Linked DNA regions of Homo sapiens. The protein of the gene in region 1 purifies or fractionates together with the protein of each later gene. This does not show direct contact. Each region holds a gene or a part of one and is shown in the gene's direction. Other genes may lie near its edges.

The links.
Region 2: the proteins of ANO6 (region 1) and C19orf38 purify together in Homo sapiens (co-immunoprecipitation; one large-scale study listed by IntAct). This does not show direct contact.
Region 3: the proteins of ANO6 (region 1) and VIPR2 purify together in Homo sapiens (co-immunoprecipitation; one large-scale study listed by IntAct). This does not show direct contact.

What each region holds. Positions count from the first base shown.
Region 1 is NC_000012.12:45,429,048-45,432,950, forward strand, and holds the end of ANO6 (anoctamin-6), read left to right. Parts: intron 1-57; coding exon 58-264; 3' UTR 265-3,302; downstream 3,303-3,903. UniProt on the Homo sapiens protein: Small-conductance calcium-activated nonselective cation (SCAN) channel which acts as a regulator of phospholipid scrambling in platelets and osteoblasts.
Region 2 is NC_000019.10:10,861,793-10,865,440, forward strand, and holds part of C19orf38 (protein HIDE1 precursor), read left to right. Parts: intron 1-1,377; coding exon 1,378-1,415; intron 1,416-3,648.
Region 3 is NC_000007.14:159,029,748-159,033,395, reverse strand, and holds part of VIPR2 (vasoactive intestinal polypeptide receptor 2 isoform 1 precursor), read left to right. Parts: intron 1-1,328; coding exon 1,329-1,458; intron 1,459-1,526; coding exon 1,527-1,568; exon of another isoform or gene 1,569-1,902; intron 1,903-2,606; coding exon 2,607-2,780; 3' UTR 2,781-3,648. UniProt on the Homo sapiens protein: G protein-coupled receptor activated by the neuropeptides vasoactive intestinal peptide (VIP) and pituitary adenylate cyclase-activating polypeptide (ADCYAP1/PACAP).

The sequences.
Region 1 (3,903 bases):
ACTCGGTGTTCTCCTCCATTTCTTTGTGAGTGACATTTTTCTTCTTCTCTTCCCCAGCACGTCATCTACTCTGTGAAATTTTTCATTTCATATGCAATTCCCGATGTATCAAAACGCACAAAGAGCAAGATCCAGAGAGAAAAATACCTAACCCAAAAGCTTCTTCATGAGAATCACCTCAAAGATATGACGAAAAATATGGGGGTGATAGCTGAGCGGATGATAGAAGCAGTAGATAACAATTTACGGCCAAAATCAGAATAAGAGCTTTATGTTCTGAGAAGCACTTTAAGGAATTTAGCTTTGTCAAAATATATTAGGAATCACTAATGAGAATGTGTAAGTTAAATCACTTTGGCAAATATGAGTCTCAACTATTGCCATTTCCTCATGTATTATTTTTCAGTTTCAGCTAGCGATGCAGAAACTGGAAAATGTAAAACTTAGATCATGAAGGGCATAAAACTTATCACCCGGAAAACCTCAATGTTACCTTTTTCTGATAAATTGGAATTTTACAGAAAAAGTCCCTCAGTGTGCTTAAAAACCACCCCTTCTAAAGTAGAATGGATTCTTTTTTTTCTGTTTGATTATTTTCATTTCTGTCTATTCTCAGGCGCATGATCTCCTTTATTTTTAAGCCATGTTTCATTTCTTCACTTGGCTAGATCTGTTCCAGGGTCATCTTTTCCTTACAGTACCATCATTATAGATTTAATTTAATAGCTTTCATGTGATTAAAAATAGCTAACTAGACTCAAGGATTCACAATATTTAGGTGTATTTTCAATACCTCCAGAAAGGAAACCTCAGTTAATCAGAGGAAATAGTTTCAGTCTTCATTTGAGCATGTCTTTCCATCTCAAAAAAATACTCTTAGTAGGTTGGAGTGAAGATAGCAAGGTTTTGAAGCATATTTGTCCTAATCCACAGTGACACTTTTTATCTTCCAGGAGCACTCCTAGGAGGTTCCGTGCCTAATCAATGTTGACTGCTTTGCAGATCTCAAGGGAATAAAATGACAAAAGCAGGGAAAGTTACAGATTCAAACAGCATTTTAACTCATGTTGATCTGGATAATTAATCTTTTCTAAAGATGTGTAGTTTCTTGGAAAACAGTGATATCACATGATTAAAATTACATTTTTATCAACATAATTGTCTGGAAAAGATAAGCCCCTCAATTTTCTACCAGTTGACTTTTATTCATTAGATACAGAAGGTGCAGTATTACACATCACCAGCTGCCTTTGTGAATGGCTCACTACACAGCCATTGGGGTACAACTGTGTGCATGGGCAGAAACAGCAAGTGCCCTCATTGTGGTCATTGGGTGGGGAGTGCCTTTTGTCAAGGAGTCTGCAGGAATTGGCTTATTTCTGTATGCCAAAGTGATCAACACACCAAAGTCTCTGCCATAAAGAATGTGGCTTCCTTGCATCCTCCATCCTGTTACTCTGGGCCCAGTAATTTGATGTAACTGTCTGATTGTACTAGAGACAGGAGTATACCCAGCTTATTCATAATCAAGTAAAGAGACTCAGATTAGATTTGATTTTTTAGCCTCCTCTAGAGCCAATCAGGCAGTTAAGAGTAATAAAGGAAAAGGGTTTGGTCACAAACCCTACCATTATCTGGAGATTACTTCCTGCTGCACTCCTGTCTTGCCATGCACGTCTTGCCCCCTCACTTTTGCTCAGCCTAGCAGTCTACTTCACTTTATTGCCTTGTAAGTGTCAGGCCTCCTGGGCGCTCTGGAAAAGACAGGGAGCCAGGCCCTCTCACCCCTACTGGTAACAGGTCATTGCTGGGTGCACAAGAGGGAGGTGATTTGCATCATGGTCATGCTGCATGGGCTTCACTGGGATGCTGTTAAACACCAGAGGAGCCAACCTATCAGAATCCCAGCAGCAAAGGAAAACTCAGATTTTAGAGGCTTTTTACAATAAAGTAGCGTAACTCTAGGTCATGATTGATTTCAAATGCCTGCCATGAATGATTTGTAAGTAATTATGTAGGATCCATCAAAGCAGTATTGTAGGCTTTTGAATTGTCCCAGTGGATCCGGGACCCCATTTCACTGTCTCTCTTGATCGTGTTAATGATGCAATCAGAGTTCAAGACAGGCCCCATGAAGTCTGACTGCACTGGGATGGAGAAATGAATTTCTTCCCACTGAAGGAAACTCTTTCTCATTCGCAGCCAAGACGGGAGTGCCACTGTTCCTCTCTTCACTCCTGAGATACTGCTTCTGGAAGCGGGTGTCACTTCCTCTCTAGTACCTCTTCTCTTCTCTGAAGTGTGTGACTATCTCCTAGTGTTTAAATTTGGCAGTTACTCGCCATGTATGTCAGCATAGAAAAGGAAATGTTTTTACCTTATCTCCTGTATGTATGATAGAACTTAAAAGAAATGTGCATTTGTTTTCATAGCCCCAGCAGAGAAAATCCTCTTCATAGATTAAATGTGCTGCTGTGGACAGGAGGGGAAAAAAAACCCTCTACATATTGAAAGGCACCAAATGTAATATCTGACACTGTTAAGATGCCCAAAAGAGCAAAGTTGTAGTGGAGATGCAGGGTCATTTCCCCATGCCATCCACAGTGTTTGTTAGTGAGTCCACGGCTGACTTGCAGTGATAAAGAAAAGCATGGAGCTGTGTCTGCAGACAATGGTGGCTGCATCTGTAAGTGGCTTCAGAGGCAGCAGCCCTGGGGAAATTGATGGGTGTGGCAGTGGACCTGTGAAGAGGGAGAATCTAGCCTTCAGCCTGTCCAGTGTTAACCACTAGAGAAACTGAGCTTTATATCCTTTTTTAATGCCTGTGAATTTTAGCATATTGAAACATTAGAGCAAATACTCAGGGGATTTTTCATTAAACATCCCTCAGATAATTTAGCTATATATCATTAGAAAGGGAAAGCTATCATTTTTATTTTAAAACTAAACAAGGCCATCTTATAAACTGTCACCAAAGTCTTCCCTTTTTTATTGCATGTGTGCCTTGAATTTCATAAAACATTAATTCACAATGGGGGTCAGAATGTACTCTTGTTGAAACACTTCTTGTACCATTTTATGTTCATATTATGTTTGAGAGGGTAAAAATGTATGAGCAGCTTAACTGAAGTAGAACTATTCATGATGCTTTTCACACATTGTGGCATAAGATGTAAAGTTTGTAATTAATGTTAATTTCTGTGCATTTTAATATTCTTTTATAATTATTAATGTTAATTTCTGTGCATTTTAATATTCTTTTATAATTATGAGCATTTTAATAAATTCATTTTTACAAACAATAGTATGGTCTATTCTATATTGTCTTAACGTTTTTAAGGAAGAGAACATATATCTGCTATTTACTAGTGGCCAGTTGTGTATCACTTAGATAAATGTGTGCTTTTGTGTAGATTTTTCACAGCCTTCACTTCAGAGATTTGCTATGGATTTTTAAAAATTATATTCAGTGTATTAAGGTTACAGATCAGAAAAGCTAGTTATTAAACTCAGCCCAAATCCTATTCTTTTCATCAATCTAGCAAATTTTACCACTTTTTACCAGACTTTTGAATAATGTTTGATTTCACCTACTAGTTTAATGAAATGTGTTAAAATATCTGCAATAGCACTTATAAATGTAGCATATTCCATTCATTTCCTTTTTAAAATACTCGTTATATGACCAATAGTGACCGAGAGGACGTAACTGGCAAAACTAGAAACGTCTTTCTCTTGCTGCCTTCTCTCTATAGGACACCTTTCCCAGAACCATTTAGGTTGTGTTCCCTGTCTCCCCTTCATTACTGAGAGGCAATATGTAAATGGACAATGGCCAGATCATATGTAAAAGCAGAACTCTATCCACACCCTGCCCCTGCTATCTGCAATAGTCAGCCCAGA
Region 2 (3,648 bases), on another chromosome or scaffold:
GTCTCGAACTCATGACCTCAGGTGATCCACCCACCTCAGCCTCCCAAAGTGCTGAGATTACAGGCAATTACAGGCGTGAGCCACCGCCCTTTTGTTGTTGTTGTTTTTTGTTTGTTTTTGTTTTGAGGCGGAGTCTCACTCTGTCGCCCAGGCTGGAGTGCGGTGACGCGATCTGGGCTCACTGCAAGCTCTGCCTCCTGGGTTCAAGCCATTCTCCTGCCTCAGCCTCCTGAGTAGCTGGGACTACAGGCGCCCGCCACCACACCCGGCTAATTTTTTGTATTTTTTTAGTAGAGATGGGATTTCACCATGTTAGCCAGGATGGTCTCGATCTCCTGACCTCGTGATCTGCCCGCCTCAGCCTCCTAAAGTGCTGGGATTACAGGCATGAGCCACCGCGCCCAGCCTGTTTTTTTTTTTTTTTTTTTTTGAGACAGAGTCTTGCTCTGTCACCCAGACAGGAACGCAGTGGCGCAATCATAGCTCACTGCAGCCTCGACCTCCTAGGCTGAAGTGATCCTCCCCTCTCAGCCTCCTGAGTAGCTGGGACCACAGGCATACACCACCACACTCAGCTACTTTTTAAATTTTTTTTTCTAGAGACAAAAAATTATGTTGCCCAGGCTGGTCTTGAACTCCTGGGCTCAAGTGATCCTCCCTCCTTGGCCTTCCAAAGCGTTGGGATTACAGCCGTGAGCCACCTCACCTGGCTAGAAGTGATGTTTAAGCAGAGACCTACAAGAATGGGTAATGGAGGCCGGGTGTGGTGGCTCACACCTGTAATCCCAGCATTTTGGGAGGCCGAGGCAGGCAGATCTCTTGGGGCAAGGAGTTCAAGACCAACCTGGCCAACATGGTGAATCCCTATCTCTACTAAGAATATGAAAATTAGCTAGGTGTAGTGGTGCATGCCTGTAATCCCAGCTATTAGGAGGCTGAGGCAGGACAATCACTTGAACCCAGGAGGCGGAAGTTGCATTGAGCCGAGATCCTGTCATTGCACTCCAGCCTGGGCAACAGAGTGAGACTCCTTCTCAAAAACAAGAAAAAAAAAATGGGTGATGGAGCAATTGGAGGAGAGCCTGGGGAGGAGGAGGAGCTGGCAGGTGCTCCTTCTGGAAGGCCTGAGATAAGACACCCATTTTCCTGAGGGCAGTGAGAGATACCCCTAGGAAGACTGTGTGTAGAAGGACTTGGTTCACTTTGTAGCTGTGAACAGTTCACCGTGCAGAATGGGTTGGAAAGGCGCCATAGAGGATGCTGGGAGATGGACCCCAATTGCTTCCCTGTGGGCTGGGGGGCAGTGCGGGGATGGCAGGGAGCAGGGAAGTTACAACTGGCCCCCAATCCTGGGTTTTCTTTCTCTTTCTGTTTCAGACATGTCCTTCGATAACTCCCTGTTTACCGTCTCCGCGGTGAGTGGTTCTTTTTCTTGGAACCGGTTTTCTGCTGACCGTCCTACCGGGAGAACGGGGCGGGCTCAAGGGGCACCACGAGGCTAAGTTGACCTGCTGTCTCTAAGCTGCGGGGGGGCTAGGAAAAGCCCAGAATCACTGAACAGGGACTCAGTAGTGAGCCGAGAGTTGGCTGTGAAAAAATCCCAGGGGGTGTGTTAATTGAAGGTGGTGACGTCAGGCTGTCTTGTGGCCACAGGCAGGCAGGCCCCTTGGTGGTATGTCCTGGCCTGGTCAGTGCTGCCTTTGGTCTCAGTCATGACAGCCCCTCAGAATGGTGACAGAGGATTCAGGGTGACCTGGTGGCCTCTCATAGAGGCTTGTGACAATCTGTGTCACAATCTGTGACAGGCTGTGGTCGGTCCCCTCTGGGTATAAAGAAAAGCATGAAGTTGCTGGGTGCGGTGACTCACGTCTGTAATCCCAGCACTTTGGAAGGCCGAGGCGGGTGTGGGTCAGGAGTTTGAGACCAGCCTGACCAATATGGTGAAACCTCATCTCTGCTAAATACAAAAAATTAGCTGGGCGTGGTGGTGCATGCTTGTAATCTCAGCTACTTGGGAGGCTGAGACAGGAGAATCACTTGGACCCAGGAGGTGGAGGTAGCAGTGAGCCAAGATTGAGGCATTGCACTCCAGCCTGGGCCACAAGAGCAAAACTCCATCTAAAACAAACAAACAGATAAAAATGAAAAAGTACAAATGCCAAGGCTACCCCAAAATGTAGCTGTGCAGAGAGTCCCATAGACCCAGGTTTAAATCCCAGCCCTGACACTGTGTGACAATGGGGAACAATATCCCCCAAAAGCAGAGGGAGGGATTTGTTTTTTTTCAAGACAGAGTCTAGCTCTGTCGCCCAGGCTGGAGCACAGTGGTGTGATCTCGGCTCACACAACTTCCGACTCCCGGGTTCAAGCAATTCTCATGCCTCAGCCTCCCGGGCAGCTGGGATTACAGGCACATGCTACCACACCCAGCTGATTTTTGTATTTTTAGTAGAGACGGGGGTTTCACCATGCTGGCCAGGCTGGTCTCAAACTCCTGACCTCAGGTGATCCACTGGGATTACAGGTGTGAGCCACCATGCTGGCTGGCTGCGGAAGCTGCTTTAGACAGGAGATCAGGAAAGTCTGAGATGGGTGACAAGCAGGAGGTGGGGAAGATTGGGGATGATTGATCCAGGCTGAGGACACATTTTTGGCACAGCCCAGTAAGCTGGGGTGGAGTGAGGAGTCGAAGGGGACCCCATGAAGAACTTTGATTTTACTGCTATTGAGCTGGGATCCCGGAAGGGTTCCTAGTATAGGAGGGAGGGGACCGGATTCAGGTGCACACAGGCGCCCTCTGGTGGCTTCTGCAGGAGGACAGATTTGGGGAAAGCGGGGATCAGTGGAAGGCAGGAGCCTGGAGACTGAAGAGCTGGGCCAAGCGTGCACCAAAGGGTGGGTGGTTTGGTCCAAAATGTTGGCAGTGGAGTTCGAAGAAGTGATCAGATGCAGGTTAGGGGAGATATAGGGGAGAGAAAACACAGAGCTGATTTTTGATGAGGGGGCCAAGGGAGAAGAGGGAGGCCAAGGAGGGTGAGGCTTGGAGGGTCAGGAGTGTGGAGTCAGCCACCTCAACCCATGGCGCCTGGGAGCAGATGGAGAGGGGAGTCTACAGTTCAGGAGAGAGGTCAGTTCTAGAGATAGACTAGGAGTGCCTGGGATACAGATGGTAGGAAGGAAGGGGGCTTGGCACGGGCCTGTGCAGCCCTCTGAGGTCTCTGCTTCCAGAATAAATCCTGAGGCCATAAGAAAAACCCGGCAGGCAGGGCTCAATCTAAACGTTTCCATGAGAATCCACACCGCACAGAACACCAGCCTGGTGATGCCCCCTCTCCCCACTTTTTGAGGTAGTTTTTATTTATTTTTGTTTGTTTTTTGAGATGGAGTCTTGCTCTGTCACCCAGGCTGGAGTGCAGTGGCTTGATCTCACTGCAACCTCCACCTCCTGGATTCAAGCGATTCTCCTGCCTCAGCTTCCCGAGTAGCTGGGATTACAGGCGCCTGCCATCGCGCCCGGCTAATTTTTGTATTTTTAGTAGAGACGGGTTTTCATCATGTTGGCCAGGCTGGTCTCCAACAACCGACCTCAGGTGATCCGCCCGCCTTGGCCTCCCAAAGTGCTGGGATTACAGGCATGAGCCACCATGC
Region 3 (3,648 bases), on another chromosome or scaffold:
TGACCGGGGGTGGAAGGGCGGCTGTGCACAGAGCTGTACCATGGCAGGAACCCTGCCGCCCAGCCTAGGAGGGTGCCTGGCCTGCATTTCCCTTTTCTCCCACCTTAGAAAACAGGGATGGATTTGGGGAGGGGCGGTTAGACAGGAGCATGGCCAACAGCCCCAAAGCTGGGTGCAGATACCGGCCAGTGCCCTGAGGGAAGTCACTTTGCCACTCCATGCCTCAGCTTCCCCATCTGTAACATGGAAGTAATAATGTCACTAAGGTCAGGAGGATCAATGCAGTCTATATTTGCCGGATATTTGCTGCCTGGCACCAGAGTATTGCAAAAGAGTCTGGTAAACCAGAGAATCTAATTCTGCTGTGTAGTGTCTAAATCCAGGGAGTATCCCGTCTCTGCTTGCCCACACGAGGGATGGGATTCCATGTCAGACCCCGCATGGCAGCATGACCTTGTCCCTGCTCAGGGGAGTCCGGTGGTGCCTGTGTGGCAGAGACCCCCGAATAAGATCGTTCTTGGTTGCCTTTCAGGTTGAACTTGGATTTCCTGTGAATCTTGTTTAGTTTCTATGCTGACCTTTGCATTGGTTCTTTGGGAGTGTTTGTTAAATTGAACTTGGAGATGGATGCTTTTATTTGGAAACAAAATCTGTTCCCTTTCCAGGACAACAGAAAAGGCCGAGACACCCTTGAGGCCACACGAGGTCCTTTCTGTGTAACTCTGGTCACAGAAGTAGCAAAACCTCCCTGGATAGGGGCCAAGAGCTCAGCCGCAGATAGGCCTCTTTTCCAGCAAACTTCAGATGCGTTAATAGAGGGAATCAGGCAGGTCCTCTGCCGCTGACTGAGGGACCTGGCTCCCACGGAGCCCAGCTGTTACGAGCTGCAGGTCCGGGAGCAGGATCGGTTCTCATCATTTAAACCTGCGTGTGGCAGCGGTGGAGGCCAGCCTTCTTGTCCCATGCCTGCCTCAGGATGGGCCGGGCTCCCAGGCGGGGCCTGTGTAGGTTTGGGGTCACTCACAGGGAATCTTGCCCCTGCCAGCCATGAACCCCAGGACACAGCGTGTGTCCTTGTGAGGGAATTTGGGAGAAACGGACACTTCCGGAATGCACGTTCCCAGGCCCTGAGTGCTAGATATGCACAGGGGCCTCAGACATAAACGTAAAGAAACAGTGGTTTTTCTTGTTGGGCGGGGACTCCAGCAGTGGAGAGGAGGTGTGGAGCCCCTCCCACACCCAGCTGCCCCCTCCTGAGAAGGACCCAGCCAGGCTTGCAGAGGGTCCGAGGGTCCAGCAGCTGAGCTGGCTCATCTCCTTCTGTGCAGGAGGCTGGCCAAGTCCACGCTCCTGCTTATCCCGCTGTTCGGCGTCCACTACATGGTGTTTGCCGTGTTTCCCATCAGCATCTCCTCCAAATACCAGATACTGTTTGAGCTGTGCCTCGGGTCGTTCCAGGTAGGTGTGCGGAGGCGGCCGCCCTCCCCCGAGCGCGGGTCCTGCCTGACCATCTCTTCTCATTGCAGGGCCTGGTGGTGGCCGTCCTCTACTGTTTCCTGAACAGTGAGGTAAGTTCATGGCCGCCTTGGAACCAAGCACAGGTACTCACTTGCTTCCTGAGATGCTGCCCAGCCTGGTGCCGCAGCCCCCACACATGCCTGTCTTCCGCGGGCTCGAGTTACTGCCCGGGACCCCACAGTTCTGTGTCCCCATCAGAGAACCCACAACGACACAGGCAAACCCACTCTTCTGGGCCCAGCTTCCAAACCCCGCCGTCCTTCCGTCCACCCTAAGTAGCATCGACTGCCGTCCGTCTCGGAGCCCTCTCGGGAAAGCTCCCGGCCGGGTCTAGACAGAATCTGTTTTTCCCCATGGTCGGCGTCTCGCTCCTGACCATAGCTTGTGAGTCCCAGAAAGCCGGGCCTGGGTTGGGGGGTGGGGCTGCACAGCGTCCTGTGAGTCCCTGGGGAGGAAGCCCGGAGCCGAGCTCTGCCCTGCGTTCATTCCCAGCCAGGGAGGCTGTCTCCGGGCTGCTCCAACGGCCTGGCCCCGTCCCCTGACCCCTGACCCTCCCGCCCCACGCTGCGGTTGCTGGCGCTTTCTTTGCTTGACATGCAGCTTTCACCAGCACGGCTTCTGCAAAGCTGAGCCCGAGTAGTGCCACTTGTCCTCCTCCCTCCTCTGCCGTCCGGGCACCCCTCACTCATCCCCACCCCCTCCCAGGGCTAACATTCCCTGCCCGCTGGGAACAGGGAAGGAGACGGAGGCCCAGCACCGTCACAACCCCGGCTGCTAAGGAAAATCTTTTCAGAGAAATATTAACTATCTGAGACTGTGGGACTGCGCTTACCGCGGCAGTGGCGATCCCCGAACCACCCACGCACAGTCTTAGAGTCTGGCAGCGTCCCCCGCCCTCCTGTGGCCGTCCAGTTCCCGCTCCCTCCAGCCTCTGCCCCCAAGGCCGTTTCTGTTTCTGTCCATCTGCTGGCAACACAGATACGGGAGCAGGCGGGAGGGAGAGCTGGAGGCTCGCGGGCCGCGCTTCCCATAGCAGCCGCCCGCACCTGCCCAGGCTCACGGGCGTTCCCGCTGCCCTCACCTCCCAGGTGCAGTGCGAGCTGAAGCGAAAATGGCGAAGCCGGTGCCCGACCCCGTCCGCGAGCCGGGATTACAGGGTCTGCGGTTCCTCCTTCTCCCGCAACGGCTCGGAGGGCGCCCTGCAGTTCCACCGCGGCTCCCGCGCCCAGTCCTTCCTGCAAACGGAGACCTCGGTCATCTAGCCCCACCCCTGCCTGTCGGACGCGGCGGGAGGCCCACGGTTCGGGGCTTCTGCGGGGCTGAGACGCCGGCTTCCTCCTTCCAGATGCCCGAGCACCGTGTCGGGCAGGTCAGCGCGGTCCTGACTCCGTCAAGCTGGTTGTCCACTAAACCCCATACCTGGAATTGGAGTCGTGTTGTCATTGACTCGATTTAAACTCCAGCATTTAGATAATCTTGTGCAAAATGTGTTTCAGCCGTATAGTGGATCCACTTTTTTTTTTTTTTTTTTTTTTGAGACGGAGTCTCGCTCTGTCGCCCAGGCTGGACTGCAGTGGCCTGATCTCTGCTCCCTGCAAGCTCCGCCTCCCGGGTTCACGCCATTCTCCTGCCTCAGCCTCCCATAGCTGGGACTACAGGCGCCCGCCAACACGCCTGGCTAATTTTTTGTATTTTTAGTAGAGACAGGGTTTCACCATGTTAGCCAGGATGGTCTCGATCTCCTGACCTCGTGATGGGCCCGCCTCGGCCTCCCAAAGTGCTGGGATTAAGGCGTGAGCCACTGCGCCCGGCCCAAGAGAATAGGGGAGCCAAGGAGGAAATGTGGAAACGCAGTTGTGTGGCCCAGCACGAGCCTGGGCGACCACCGGGTGACATCCGTCCCACATCAGGGCGGCCTCCCAGGTCCCATAAGGGTAGCCCCCTCATCTGCAGGACAGAGGGAAGCCAGTCAGGGCCCCCCTGACGTTAGGACCAGGAGAAATCAACAGGAGGGCAGCCCGTCCTCTCTCTTGGGGCGCCCACCCGGCCCGGCTGAGCCCTGCCCCACCCAACTCCACAGGGCTGTTTTGCCTCCCCACGGAAGGCGGGCTGAGGAGACAACCAGATCAG